Homo sapiens: one gene and its partners. The protein of the gene in region 1 interacts with the protein of each later gene in a pairwise test. Each region holds a gene or a part of one and is shown in the gene's direction. Other genes may lie near its edges.

The links.
Region 2: the proteins of NDRG4 (region 1) and ERGIC3 interact in binary tests that used the Homo sapiens proteins (3 or more experiments, as listed by UniProt).
Region 3: the proteins of NDRG4 (region 1) and THAP4 interact in binary tests that used the Homo sapiens proteins (3 or more experiments, as listed by UniProt).
Region 4: the proteins of NDRG4 (region 1) and RHBDD2 interact in binary tests that used the Homo sapiens proteins (3 or more experiments, as listed by UniProt).

The regions. Positions count from the first base shown.
Region 1 is NC_000016.10:58,503,143-58,506,642, forward strand, and holds part of NDRG4 (protein NDRG4), read left to right. Parts: intron 1-563; exon of another isoform or gene 564-601; coding exon of another isoform or gene 602-655; coding exon 656-761; intron 762-1,011; coding exon 1,012-1,132; intron 1,133-1,216; coding exon 1,217-1,279; intron 1,280-1,446; coding exon 1,447-1,507; intron 1,508-3,244; coding exon 3,245-3,331; intron 3,332-3,415; coding exon 3,416-3,472; intron 3,473-3,500. UniProt on the Homo sapiens protein: Contributes to the maintenance of intracerebral BDNF levels within the normal range, which is necessary for the preservation of spatial learning and the resistance to neuronal cell death caused by ischemic stress.
Region 2 is NC_000020.11:35,548,578-35,552,077, forward strand, and holds part of ERGIC3 (endoplasmic reticulum-Golgi intermediate compartment protein 3), read left to right. Parts: coding exon 1-97; intron 98-230; coding exon 231-288; intron 289-3,500. UniProt on the Homo sapiens protein: Possible role in transport between endoplasmic reticulum and Golgi. Positively regulates trafficking of the secretory proteins SERPINA1/alpha1-antitrypsin and HP/haptoglobin.
Region 3 is NC_000002.12:241,588,659-241,592,158, reverse strand, and holds part of THAP4 (peroxynitrite isomerase THAP4), read left to right. Parts: intron 1-3,500. UniProt on the Homo sapiens protein: Heme-binding protein able to scavenge peroxynitrite and to protect free L-tyrosine against peroxynitrite-mediated nitration, by acting as a peroxynitrite isomerase that converts peroxynitrite to nitrate.
Region 4 is NC_000007.14:75,885,534-75,889,033, forward strand, and holds the end of RHBDD2 (rhomboid domain-containing protein 2), read left to right. Parts: intron 1-2,458; coding exon 2,459-2,816; 3' UTR 2,817-3,393; downstream 3,394-3,500.

The DNA.
Region 1 (3,500 bases):
TGAACTCAAGAGGATCCCAGAGCAGGCTCTGCAGAAGGCCTCTAGAGGGGATGGGGAGGGGGGTCTGACCCGGGCCTGCCTGAAGGGAGCCCTTGAGGATGCTGGGCTCACACAGAAGGGCGTTCAAGGTGGAAGGAACCACATGCGCAAGAGCCTTAGAGTGGGAGCCAGGGGCAGTGCCGGGGTCGGGGCTAGGCTTGGCTGGCACGGGGTGTTTTCTGAGGATTCCAGGCAGGACCACTGAGGCCGTTCCCCTGCAGCAGCAGGAAGTGCCTGAGAGTTCTGAGTGTGAGAGGGACTTGGGCTGGGGAGGCAGAGCTGTCCAGGAGGGGCTGCTGCAAGATGGAGAAAAACAGCCTCCCTGGACCCTCAAGGGCGGAGGACAGTGACAGCACAAACCAGTGGCTGGTTTGCAGAGAGGACCAGACCTTCCCCATGCAGATCAGTTCACATTGTCTCTGTACTGAACAGCCCTGAGAAGGGGTGTTCCATCCATTCAGTCCTCTCTGGGGGCTTCTTGGGGTGATGAGAACAGGATGCCCCAAGTAGGGGCTCTACCACAGGCCTAACAGGTACCAGGCTGCGTCACCTCATTCCCCAGAGGAGCCAAGAGCGGAGGCTGCCCAGAGTGTCCAGCACGGTCTCTCCCCTTCAGGAACATGACATCGAGACACCCTACGGCCTTCTGCATGTAGTGATCCGGGGCTCCCCCAAGGGGAACCGCCCAGCCATCCTCACCTACCATGATGTGGGCCTCAACCGTAAGTGCAGCCCAGCCTCAGTCAGCCCTCCTCTGCCTCCCATCAGCCAGAGCGGTGAGGCCCCCCACCCTCCCCACAGGGCCCTGTCAGCCCCACTCACACTCACCTCTGTTGCCTTCGCCCTCCGGGCCTCCATTTCCCCGACGGACCCGAGGCTTACACTTCTGCCTTGCCTGCCCTCTGGGGGCCCGGCCTTCCTTCCAGTCCCCCGGCCCCTCTGCTCAGCCATAGTGGAAGTGTGTCTTTGCAGACAAACTATGCTTCAACACCTTCTTCAACTTCGAGGACATGCAGGAGATCACCAAGCACTTTGTGGTGTGTCACGTGGATGCCCCTGGACAACAGGTGGGGGCGTCGCAGTTTCCTCAGGGGTAGGTACCCTGAGCCCCCTCTGCCTGTCTCCAGCTCTGCACCTGAGGCCACACCTGGGCCCTGACCTCCTGCTCTGCCTGCAGGTACCAGTTCCCCTCCATGGAGCAGCTGGCTGCCATGCTCCCCAGCGTGGTGCAGCATTTCGGGTGAGTCCCCGCACAGCCCCTGCGCTAGGGCCCAGGGGTGCCTACCCCAACTGCAGAGCCACCTGGCTCCAGCTGAGGGCTTCAGGCTATGGGCAGGGCCTGCTCTGGATGACATGTATGGGAAATGGCACCCCTAGCCCTAGAGTGACCAGCCTGCTCTGCACCAGGTTCAAGTATGTGATTGGCATCGGAGTGGGCGCCGGAGCCTATGTGCTGGCCAAGTTTGCAGTGAGTCTCCCCATGCCCCCATTACCCCAAACACCAGGGCAAGCCAGGGATGTCCCAGTGGTGGGGACTGGGGGGAACCCTTCAGCCTTGAGGAAGTGTCCCTGCTCTCGCTTCTCCTCCTCCCACCTCCTCTTTATGTAGAAAACCTCTTTTTTCTTTTTTCCTCCAGGGAAATTAACTTTTTTAAAAAAGAGGTTCCTTTCTCCATATAGTTTTCTCAAGAGACTAGAAACTATAACTTGCTTAAACTATTATCCAAAGCCAGAATTTCTAGTAGCAACAAACTATACAACTAACTGCTCTAGCCACTAAATAAGGATCGTCCTTCACTAATTGCCATGGTATTTCAACATGAATAATTTTTTTAGCAAAAAATTTTATTATGGTTGGGAGGTTTAAAGAAGGCACATTTCAAAAACATCATTGTCGGTGGCTCACACCTGTAATCCCAGCACTTTGGGAGGCCAAGGTGGGCAGATCACGAGGTCAGGAGATCAAGACCATCCTGGCTAACACGGTGAAACCCAGTCTCTACTAAAAATACAAAAAATTAGCCGGGCGTAGTGGCGGGCGCCTGTAGTCCCAGCTACTCGGGAGGCTGAGGCAGGAGAAAGGCGTGAACCCGGGAGGCGGAGCTTGCAGTGAGCTGAGATCGCGCCACTGCACTCCAGCCTGGGCAACAGAGCGAGACTCTGTCTCAAAAAAATAAAAAAATAAAAAAAATCATTGTTGGGTAGGAATTCACAAGCTTTTCATCTCTAAAAACAAGCAAAAAAAAAAAAAACAAAAACCCAAAAGACTAATTTTTCACGATCGAAGACATTTACTACTTCAAAAGAAATGACCAAGAATTTTCAACTCCAGTTGCAATGTCAGCACTTAATCATTTTGTTAACTGGAGGCCATTCCCTGCCACCCTAGACAAGCTTGATGTGGTTATGCTGTTTTTCTTTAAGCACAGTCTAACAGTTGAAAAGAAAATACCTCTTTTGCAATGCCTACGGCAAAACAGACTTTGAAAAGGTTGTTTTTTTCTTAATTTATATCATGAGGGCTTCATTTTCTTTTTTTTTTTTTTTTTTTTTTTTTTGAGATGGAGTCTTGCTCTGTCGTCCAGGCTGGAGTGCAGTGGCATGATCTCGGCCCACTGCAACCTCCACCTCCCTGGTTCAAGCAATTCTCCTGCCTCAGCCTCCTAAGTAGCTGAGACTACAGGTGCATGCCACCACGCCTGGCTAATTTTTGTATTTTTATTAGAGACAGGGCTTCACCATGTTGGCTAGGCTGGTCTCGTATGCCTGACCTCAGGTGATCAGCCCGCCTTGGCCTCCCAAAGTGCTGGGATTACAGGCGTGAGCCACGGCGCCTGGCCAGGGCTTCATTCTCTATAAAAGCAAAAAAACAACATGCTTAAGATTTTAAGATGTTTAATACTCAATTTTGCACTTCAAAAATATATTAAGAGCTGATTCTGTTGAAAGAGCGTGTGTGTGTGTGTGTGTGTGTGTCTGTGTGTGTGTAGGGGTGGAAACAATGATAGAGATTCTAAATAAATCCAAGAACTGTGAAGGGTTCAGTGAGAGGAGGACAGGCAGGGGCATCTGGACATGGGTGTGCATGCACAGACCCGGCTGTAGCCGGGTGGCTGATCAGCAGCACCTTGAAGACTTTACAGAGTGTTTCTGCCATCTGCACCCATCCTGGCCCCGCCCGGCCCTGTTTCCCCTCTTACTGCAGCTCATCTTCCCCGACCTGGTGGAGGGGCTGGTGCTGGTGAACATCGACCCCAATGGCAAAGGCTGGATAGACTGGGCTGCCACCAAGGTGTGTGTGGTGACCGGGGGTGGGGTGGGTATACCTAGGGTGGGGTGAGGGGCGGCACTCACGCTGGCGCCCTGCTCCCTGCAGCTCTCCGGCCTAACTAGCACTTTACCCGACACGGTGCTCTCCCACCTCTTCAGCCAGGTAAGGGGGGGAACTTCTGCAGATCTGG
Region 2 (3,500 bases), on another chromosome or scaffold:
TACTATTGAGCAGTGCCGGCGAGAGGGCTTCAGCCAGAAGATGCAGGAGCAGAAGAATGAAGGCTGCCAGGTGTATGGCTTCTTGGAAGTCAATAAGGTATCAGGAGGGATCAAGACAAGATAGGGCCAGCTGGGCTGGGCAAGCTCCACTGGGAACCGAGGGCCCAGTCAGGCCCTGAGTAGGCAAAAGGAGGACACAGCCAGTGAATGAGAGAGAATGTTCCTTACAGGTGGCCGGAAACTTCCACTTTGCCCCTGGGAAGAGCTTCCAGCAGTCCCATGTGCACGGTGAGTGATCTGCACTAGCTGGGGAGATTTAGATGCTGGCCACCTTCTTGGTGAGCTTGAGTGGTCCTCTTCTGCCTGCTGCTCATTTGTCTTGGGCAACCATTTGGCCAGAGCAGGCCTTCATCTCAGGGCAGCAGTTTGGCACAGTGGCTAAGAGCACAGGCCGAGGAGCCAGACTGCCTGCATTCAGATACCAGTTTCAGACCTTACTGGCTGTGTGACTTTGAGAAGGTTTCTTAATCTTTTTGACTCCTGTTTTCTACTTTATAAAATGTTGTGAGGGCACTTATCTCACAGGGTGTGTGTGCAGGTTAAAGATGATAGCACGGAGCCTGGCTTGTGGTAGGTACTTGTTGAAATGGTAGCCCCCCGTGTCCGATGATGACCTGTGCATGAGGCTTTGGGAGAAGCAGAGCTAGGTTGGAGCACAGGTTCTGCCACACCTGGGCTATGTCATATTTGGGCCCTATTTAGTTGCTTCTTCTGTAAAATGGGGATGATGATAATAGTACCCACTCACAGGGCTGTTGGGGTGAACAAATGAGATTTATTCTCATTCATTTGTTCATTCATGCATTCACAAAATATTTAGTAATCACCTACTAGTCTAGTTGCTAAGGGTACAGTAGTGAACAATCTGTGCCCTCAGAACATTCTAGTAAAGAAATAGACAATAAGTATATAAAATATAAATAGTCCCCAATTAACAATGGTTCAGCTTGCAATTTTTAACTTCATGATGGGTATTACATGCATTTTTCACTTAACGATATTTTCTTTTTCTTTTTTGAGACAGAGTCTCACTCTGTCGCCCAGGCTGGAGTGCAGTGGCATGATCTTGACTCACTGCAACCTCCACCTCCTGGATTCAAGTGATTCTCCTACCTCAGCCTCTTGAGTAGCTGGGTGTACAGGTGCGTGCCACCACGCCCAGCTAAGTTTTGTATTTTTAGTAGAGATGGGGTTTCATTATGTTGGCCAGGCTGGTCTTGAACTCCTGACCTCAAGTGATCTGCCCGCCTCGGCCTCCCAAAGTGCTAGGATTACAGGCATGAGCCACCGCACCTGGCCGACTTACAATATTTTCAACTTGCAATGGGTTTATTGGGACGTAACCCCAGTGTAGGTCAGGGAGCATCTGTATATGGTATATCAGATGCTGTTAAGTCATATGGACCAAAACAAGGCAGGATAAAGATGGTAATGGGGAGGGGCTAGGGTAGGGCAGTGAGGGTCCTATTTTAAATATGGAGGTCAGGGAAAAACTCTTTGATGAGGTAATATTTTAGCAAAGACCTGAAGACAGTGAGGGAGCCAGCCATGTGGATGTCTGGGGAGGAAGTGTTACAAGCAGAGAGAACAGCAAATGCAAATTCCTAAGGCTAGAATGTGCTTGGCAAGTTCAAGATACAGTAAGAAGGTTAGGGTGGCTGGAGCAGAGGAGCATGCTTAGAAATGAAGTGAGAGAGGCCGGGTGCAGTAGCTCATACCTGTAATCCCAGCACTTTGGGAGGCCGAGGCGGGTGGATCACCTGAGGTCAGGAGTTCAAGACCAGCCTGGCCAACATGGTGAAACCCTGTCTCTACCAAAAATACAAAAATTAGCTGGGTGTGGTGGCACACGCCTGTAATCCCAGCTACTCGGGAGGCTGAGGCACGAGAATCTCTTGAACCTGGGAGGTGGAGGTTGCAGTGAGCTGAAATTGCGCCATTGTACTCCAGCCTGGGTAACAGAGTGAGACTCCATTTCAAAAAATAATAATAAATAAAGAGAGGTCACAGGGCCATATCATGCAGGGCTTGCAGGGGCATTGTAGGGACTCGGGCCGTTACTCTGCATGAGATGAGAAGCCATTGTAGGGCCCTGAAGAAGGTGAGGCATGATCTGACTTAAAAGCTCTCCAGCTGCTCTGTGGACAAGACTGGGCAGGGGAAAGGACAGAATCAGAGAGGCCCATTAGGAGGCAGTTGCAGTGATCAATCCAGGCAAAAGATGGTGGGGCACGGCCCAGAGTGGCAGTGGAAGTGGTGGGAAGTGACTGGCTTCTGGATGTATTTTGAAGGTAGAGCTGAGAAGAGTTCCTGATGGGCATGAGGGATAAAGGAAAAAGGAGTCAAGGATGCCTCCAAAGTTTTGTACCTGAGTAGTAAGAAGGATGGAGTTGCCTGTAATCCTAGCACTTTGGGAGGCCAAGGCAGGTGGATTGCCTGAGCTGAGGAGTTTGAGACCAGCCTGGGCAACATGATGAAACCTTGTCTCTACTAAAAAATGCAAAAAATCAGCCGGGCGTAGCGGCGTGCGCCTGTAGTCCCAGCTACTCGGGAGGCTGAGGTAGGAGAATTGCTTGAACCCAGGAGGCGGAGGTTGCAGGGAGCCGAGATTGTGCCATTTCACTCCAGCCTGAGCGACAGAGTGAGATTCCATCTCCATTAAAAAAAAAAAAAAGGATAGAGTTGCCATTTAGCAAGATGAGGGAGACTCAGGGCAGGTTTAGATGTTCGGAAATGGGATCGTACAGCTGGTATTCGGCTTTTGACGTGTTCAGACCAATAGCATCTGGGTGTCCTTCTAGACACCCAAGGTGTCAAGTAAGTTTTCCATTCAAGCCTGGAGTTCAGGGAGAGGACTTGCCTGGAGATGCAGATGTTGGCATCATCAGCATGTGTATAGAGCTGTGGGACTGGATGAAATCACCCTGGAGGTGAGGGCAGATGGAGAAGAAGGGAAGCTCAAAGGGCTGGGTGCCAGGCCTCCCACATTAGAGGCCAAGGGTGTCAGGGGGAATTGGTAGGGGAGACTGGAGGAGGAGTGTAAGCTGGGAATGTGGCATCCTGCCAGCCACGGACGGGTGTTTCAAATACCACATCAGATGCTTCTGGATGTCAAGCGGGAATTGACCATGGCATGTACATGCAACAGTCACTTATAGCCTTGACTGAGTCATTTAAGGGTGTGACAGGACCACCCTAGAGTGGGTTCGGGAGGGAATGGGGGAGGAGTTGGAGCCAGTATTGACAGCTCTATAGTGGAAATTGCCTAGGGGAGGAGAGAGCATGAGCTGAAGCTAGAGGGAAATGTGGAGTCGAGGGAGGCTTTTCTAAGGAGGGTGATGTAGCAGAATGTTAATATGCTGTTGGAAATTATCGACTAAAGAGCATAAGTGATGCTCCAGAGACGAGACAGTGACCGGAGTGAAGTCCTGGAGAAGGAG
Region 3 (3,500 bases), on another chromosome or scaffold:
GTGGGTGGCTCTGGACCTAGCTTTGCAGCCTGGGCTGCCACCGGTGACCTGCGAGCTTGAGCATCTTTTCACGTCGTTGCTGGGTCATCCTCCAGCGAGGTGCCTGTTCAGGTCTGGTGACCATTTCCACTGTGCCTTTTCTGGCTGACATGTCAGAGTTCTTTATATGATTTGAATAAAGCTCTGTTAGCTAAATGTGTTGCAAATAGCTTTTTCGGTCTGTGATTATCTTTTGAGTTTTACAAATTGTTTTTGAAGAACAGAGGTTCTGGATTTTATGTGGTTCAGTTTGCCAATCTCTTCCTTTATGGATTCTGTTTTTAATGTCTTAGTTAAGCAGTCTTTCCTCACTAACAGGTCAAAATATGTATTCTGAATTTTTCTGGAAGCTTCACAGTTCAACCTAAAATCTTTCCTTTAGGTCATTAATCCACCTGGGGCTGAGTTGTGTGTATAGTGTGAAGTGCTGTCCCCTCTCCTTGTTCTCAGATGAGGGCCAGCTACCCTGCACCCTGCATGAAGAGCCCGGCCCCCCTGTTCACCCATGCAACTGCCCCCTGAGCCCCTCAGTATCCTTCATCAGGGGTCTGCTTCTCACCCTCTCTCTGGTTCCAGGTGGTCTGTTTGTCAGTCCCTGTGCCAATACCACACTGTCTTCATTATCATGGCTTCTACTTTTTAAAAATCACCTCTATTGAGGTATACTTTATATGGAATAAATGCATACACTTCAAGTGTGCAGTTTGATACATTTGGACAAGCATATATAATCTTGTAACGCTGCGCCAGTCAAGACTGAGAACAGTCCCAGCACCCTAGAAAGTCCCCGTGCTCCACAGGCAACCCCCGCTGCCCTCTCAAGCCCCCGGCCTGGTTTCTGCCACTGTAGACCGAGCAGCTCTGAGTGTCCTAGTGCCCATGATCATCAGCCGAGCAGTTCTGAGTGTCCTAGTGCCCATCATCATCAGCCGAGCAGCTCTGAGTGTCCTAGTGCCCATCATCGTCAGCCGGGCAGTTCTGAGTGTCCTAGTGCCCATCATCGTCAGCCTGGCAGTTCTGTCTGTCCTAGTGCCCATCATCATCAGCCGAGCAGCTCTGAGTGTCCTAGTGCCCATCATCGTCAGCCGGGCAGTTCTGTGTGTCCTAGTGCCCATTATTGTCAGCCGAGCAGCTCTGAGTGTCCTAGTGCCCATCATCGTCAGCCGAGCAGCTCTGTGTGTCCTAGTGCCCATCATCGTCAGCCGGGCAGTTCTGTGTGTCCTAGTGCCCATCATCGTCAGCCGGGCAGTTCTGTGTGTCCTAGTGCCCATTATCGTCAGCCGGGCAGCTCTGCGTGTCCTAGTGCCCATTATCATCAGCCGAGCAGCTCTGAGTGTCCTAGTGCCCCTCATCATCAGCCGGGCAGTTCTGAGTGTCCTAGTGCCCATGATCATCAGCCAAGCAGTTCTGTGTGTCCTAGTGCCCATCATCATCAGCCGAGCAGCTCTGAGTGTCCTAGTGCCCATCATCGTCAGCCGGGCAGCTCTGCGTGTCCTAGTGCCCATCATCATCAGCCGAGCAGCTCTGAGTGTCCTAGTGCCCCTCATCATCAGCCGGGCAGTTCTGAGTGTCCTAGTGCCCATCATCAGCCGAGCAGCTCTGTGTGTCCTAGTGCCCATTATCATCAGCCGAGCAGCTCTGAGTGTCCTAGTGCCCATTATCATCAGCCGAGCAGCTCTGCGTGTCCTAGTGCCCATTATCATCAGCCGAGCAGCTCTGAGTGTCCTAGTGCCCCTCATCATCAGCCGGGCAGTTCTGAGTGTCCTAGTGCCCATCATCATCAGCCGGGCAGCTCTGAGTGTCCTAGTGCCCCTCATCATCAGCCGGGCAGCTCTGAGTGTCCTAGTGCCCATTATCATCAGCCGAGCAGCTCTGAGTGTCCTAGTGCCCATTATCATCAGCCGAGCAGCTCTGTGTGTCCTAGTGCCCATTATCATCAGCCGGGCAGCTGAGTGTCCTAGTGCCCATTATCATCAGCCGAGCAGCTCTGAGTGTCCTAGTGCCCATCATCGTCAGCCGAGCAGCTCTGCGTGTCCTAGTGCCCATCATCGTCAGCCGAGCAGCTCTGCGTGTCCTAGTGCCCGTCATCGTCAGCCGAGCAGCTCTGAGTGTCCTAGTGCCCATCATCGTCAGCCGAGCAGCTCTGAGTGTCCTAGTGCCCATCATTATCATCAGTGGAGTCACAGCACACAACTCATTTGTTTCCGGTCTCCTTTCCTCACTGAAACGCTCTCAAGATTCAGCAGTTCTGCTGCATGTGCCACGTCTGCTTGTTGCTGTGTGGTGGTCCACCAGTGAGCTTGTCAGTTTTGTTTATCCTTTCTGTTGATGGATGTTTATTTTATTTGTTTCCAGTTCCGGGCTATTAGGAATAAAGCTGTAAGCATGTGTAGACCTAACTTTGTGTGGACACATGTTTTTTTTCCTCTTGGGTGCATACCTGGGATTGGAACTGCTGGGTTCTGTGGTAAGCACCAATCTCTTCCAGAGTGGCTGTCCCCCTTGACACCCCAGCAAGGTTGTCCCACAGCCTCGCCAAGGGTTGGCCTTTGAGTTTTATCCTGGCCACTACAGGGTGGTATTTTATTGTGATGTTAATTTGCACTTCCCTGCTGAGTAACGATGCTGCTCATCTTTTTGTTGTACTTATTTGCCACTTGTATTTCTTGTTTTGTGAAATGAACATTCAGATTTTTTGCCCATTTGTTTAAGTGTTTGTGTTATTCCTGAGTTGTAAGAGCCTGTTGTTTGTTCTGGGTATAAGTCCTTTATCAGGTGTACTTGCCAACACGATATTCCTATCCTGTGCCTTGCCTTTCTGTTTCCTAGACAGTACCATTTGAAGAACCAAATGTTGTTTTTTTTGGTGGGGGTGGGGGGTTTCTTTTCTTTTTCTTTTTTTTTTTTGAGACATTGTTTGCTCTCGTTGCCCAGGCTGGAATGCAATGGCCTGATCTCAGCTCACTGCAACCTCTACCTCCCAGATTCAAGCGATTATCCTCTCTCAGCCTCCCAAGTAGCTCGGATTACAGGCTCCCACCACCATGGCCGGCTAATTTTTTGTATTTTTAGTAAAGACGGGGTTTCACCATGTTGGCCAGGCCGGTCTCGACCTGACGTCAGGTGATCCACCCTCGTTGGTCTCCCAAAGCGCTGAGATGACAGGCGTGAGCCACCATGCGCAGTCTAGAACCAAATGTTTTAATTCTGTTACCATTTTTTTTCTCTAGTCAGTGCTTTTTGTGTCCTGTCTTAAAATTTTTCACCTAGCCCAGGCAGCAAAGATTTTCACCTGCATTTTCTTCAAGAAGTTTTATAGTTTTAAGATATATGCTATTTGGAATTGCTATTTCTAGATGGTATGAGGTAGTAGTCACGTTTTTTCCATTTTTCCTCATACAGATACCTCGTTTCCAGCACCATTTGTTGAAAAGAGAACCCTTAATTTATTAAAGTATGCA
Region 4 (3,500 bases), on another chromosome or scaffold:
AAAGGCGTGTTCATCCATTTTGTATTGCTATAAAGAAATACCTGAGCCTGGGTCATTTATAAGAAAAGAGGTTTATTTGGCTCATGGCTTCGTAGGCTACACTAGGATCATGGCACCGGCCTCAGGCAGCTTCCAATCATAGGGCAAGGGGAGGCGGCACCACACATTGAGAGAGGGAGGGAGGTGCTGGGCTCTTAAACACCCAGCTCTTACCTAAACTCAGAGGGAGAACTCATTACTACGGGGAAGAAGCCAAGCCACTCACGCAAGGTCTGCCCCCGTGACCCAGACGCCTCCCACTGAGCTCCACCTCTAGTGCTGGAACACTGGGAATCACGTTTCTTTTTTTTTGAAATGGAGTCTCACTCTGTGGCCCAGGCTGGAGTGCAGTGGCGTGATCTCAGCTCACTGCAACCTCCACCTCCTGGGTTCAAGTGATTCTCCTGTCTCAGCCTCCCAAGTACTTGGAATTATAGGCGCGTGCCACTATACCCGGCTAAAGATCCATTTCAGCACATGATTTGGAGCAGAGGAAACATCCAAAGTGTATCAGAAGGCAAGGTGCTTGGTCCTTGGCCCTTTTTGGCCCGCCACCAGCTGTGGAGTAAATTTTCCCCTGCACGCTGGCCTGGATGTGGGGTTTTTGTTGAATAGGAAGCTGCCCTTAGAGCTTCTTCCAAGAGGTGCTCCCAGCTGTCAACAGCTCAGAGCCCTTGGACTATTTTTCTAAAAGGCCAGGAGGGCTGCTGGGAAAACAGAAATGCGGACTCACCGCATTATTGCTTCAGGCAAGTAATTCCTGGGGTCTCAATGTGGGGGAGACTGTACATTTAGGACTAGGTGTTTTGTGGGTTTTAGTTGTTCTCATTGAATCTGGAGAACTGTCTGTCACCAAGGAATCCCCTCTGTAATAGCTGATGGTGGTCTCCAGCTGTATCTCACATACAAGAGCTCACTCTCCAAGACTGGCCCTGATGAGAAAGTTCTTCCATGCTGAAGGGCCGGGCGCGGTGGCTCACACCTGTAATCCCAGCACTTTGGGAGGCTGATGCGGGTGGATCACGAGATCAGGAGATCGAGACCATCCTGGCTAACACGGTGAAACCCCATCTCTACTAAAAATACAAAAAATTGGCCATGTGCGGTGGTGGGCACCTGTAGTCCCAGCTACTCGGGAGGCTGAGCCAGGAGAATGGTGTGAACCTGGGAGGTGGAGCTTGCAGTGAGCCGAGATCGCGCCACTGCACTCCAGCCTGGGCAAAAGAGCGAGACTCCGTCTCAAAAAAAAAAAAAAAGAGTTCTTCCATGCTGAATTGCAATCAGCCTCACAGACACTGCCACACCCAGTGCCAGGTCTGATCCTGCCTCACTGTGACAGGCAGATCTTAGGGTTTAAGAGGAAGATGGTGTTCCTTCTGTGTTCCCCACGTGACATGGAGTCCAGTCCCTCAGGTCTGGTGCCTGCTGCAGACACTCAGAATATTGTGTTTCAGGCAGCCTGACAGTGGGTCCAGGGCCATGTCATGACACGCATGTTTATTTTGTCAGCAAGATGGCCGTTTGGACAGCTTGTCTCCTCAGAGGCTCTTGTTGATAGATAATTTTTTTTTTTTTTTTTTTTTTACACATGGTCTTGCTCTGTTGCCTAGGCTGGAGTGCAGTGGCACAGTCATAACTCACTGCAGCCTCAAACTTCTGGGTTTAAGCAGTCCTCCTACCTCAGCCTCTTAAGTACCTGGGACTAGAAGCATATGCCACCAGACCTGGCTAATTAAAAAAAAAAAAAAACAATTTTTTTTTTTGAGACAGAGTCTTGCTCTGTCACCCAGGCTGGAGTGCAGTGGCACAATCTTGGCTCACTGCAACCTCTGCCTCCCAGGTTCAAGCGATTCTCCTGCCTCAGCCTTCTGAGTAGCTGGGACTACAGGCGCCTGCCACCACACCTGGCTAATTTTTTTTTTTTAATTTTTAGTAGAGACCGGGTTTCATCATGTTGGCCAGGCTAGTCTCGAACTCCTGACCTCAGATGATCCACCCGCCTTGGCCTCCCAAAGTGCTGGGATTGCAGGTGTGAGCCACCATGCCCAGCCTGAATCCGTTCTCTTTGGGCAGAATTGTCGAGCCAGCCACACAGGCACTGGCAGCTGTGACCTGGTCCCAACGCTCCATCTGGTTTAGAAGCTGCTGTGAGCAGGTCACCCCTCCGGTGGTCTCAGTGGCAGGTCCAGTGTCCTTTCATACAACTCCCTTGCTGCAGGACTGCAACTGGCCCCACCCTCCCTGGGCATCTGTGGTCTGATTGGTTGAGGTTAACCTTTCTCCCACTTGGTACTTAGAGCAAGTCACAGAAAACATCCAAGGCATGTTGTACTAGAAAGCGGGGGCAACCTCAAGCACAAGATGCCATGACCTTGCCAAGACTCGCTGAAGGACCATTTTCTCTCTTGTTCCATTCCAGACTGAACCCGGTGCCTGGCTCCTACCCCACACAGAGCTGCCACCCTCACCTGTCCCCAAGCCACCCTGTGTCCCAGACGCAGCACGCCAGTGGTCAGAAGCTGGCCTCCTGGCCCTCCTGCACCCCCGGGCACATGCCCACCTTGCCTCCGTACCAGCCTGCCTCCGGCCTGTGCTATGTGCAGAACCACTTTGGTCCAAACCCCACCTCCTCCAGTGTCTACCCAGCTTCTGCGGGCACCTCCCTGGGCATCCAGCCCCCCACGCCTGTGAACAGCCCTGGCACGGTGTATTCTGGGGCCTTGGGCACACCAGGGGCTGCAGGCTCCAAGGAGTCCTCCAGGGTCCCCATGCCCTGAGAGAATTTCTAGGGAAGTCATCTCACTTGGCCTTCTGAAGGTCCTCCCTAAGAGTCTCCTGACAAAAGTTACTTATTGAACACCTCTATGTGCCAGGCTCTGTGTTGGGTACTTTGATCAATGCCCCTGTTTCAGTCTCATCTGTACTCACGGCAGCCCTGTGGAGTACGGTGTACTGGCCCAGCTTACAGATGCAGAAAGCGAGACGTTCTGCCATCAGATAAAGTCACGTGGCTCTTTAGTAACACGGACAAGGCTCCTCGCCAAGGAACTCGTGGCAGAAGAGGGCAGCAGTTGGCAGTAGCTGCCGATGTCTGTCCCCAGCTCCACCATTCCTCCCTGTGGCTGTGCCGTGCTCGTGGTTTCAGTGTCCGTGTGTCCATGTGTCTGCCCTTCAGGAGCTCGCAGCTGGTGTGCTTGGCGGTCCCAGGCCTGTGTAGTGTCTCTCCCCTGCTGCGGGCGCCCCCACCCCGATTCCTCTCCCCAGAAGCGGTGGGATGGGCCCCCATGAACTGCAGCAGCATGCTGAGGTGTCCATGTTGTCTGCCTTTGTATAAAGAAACAGCCTCTGACCTGCCGTGCTGGCGTGTGCTTCCTTTGTGGTCTGGCTGGGGAAGAGGGAGTGCGCTGAGATCTGGGCAGTGGCAATGTGTGGTGTGGCGGCAGAGAGGAGAGATGCACCAG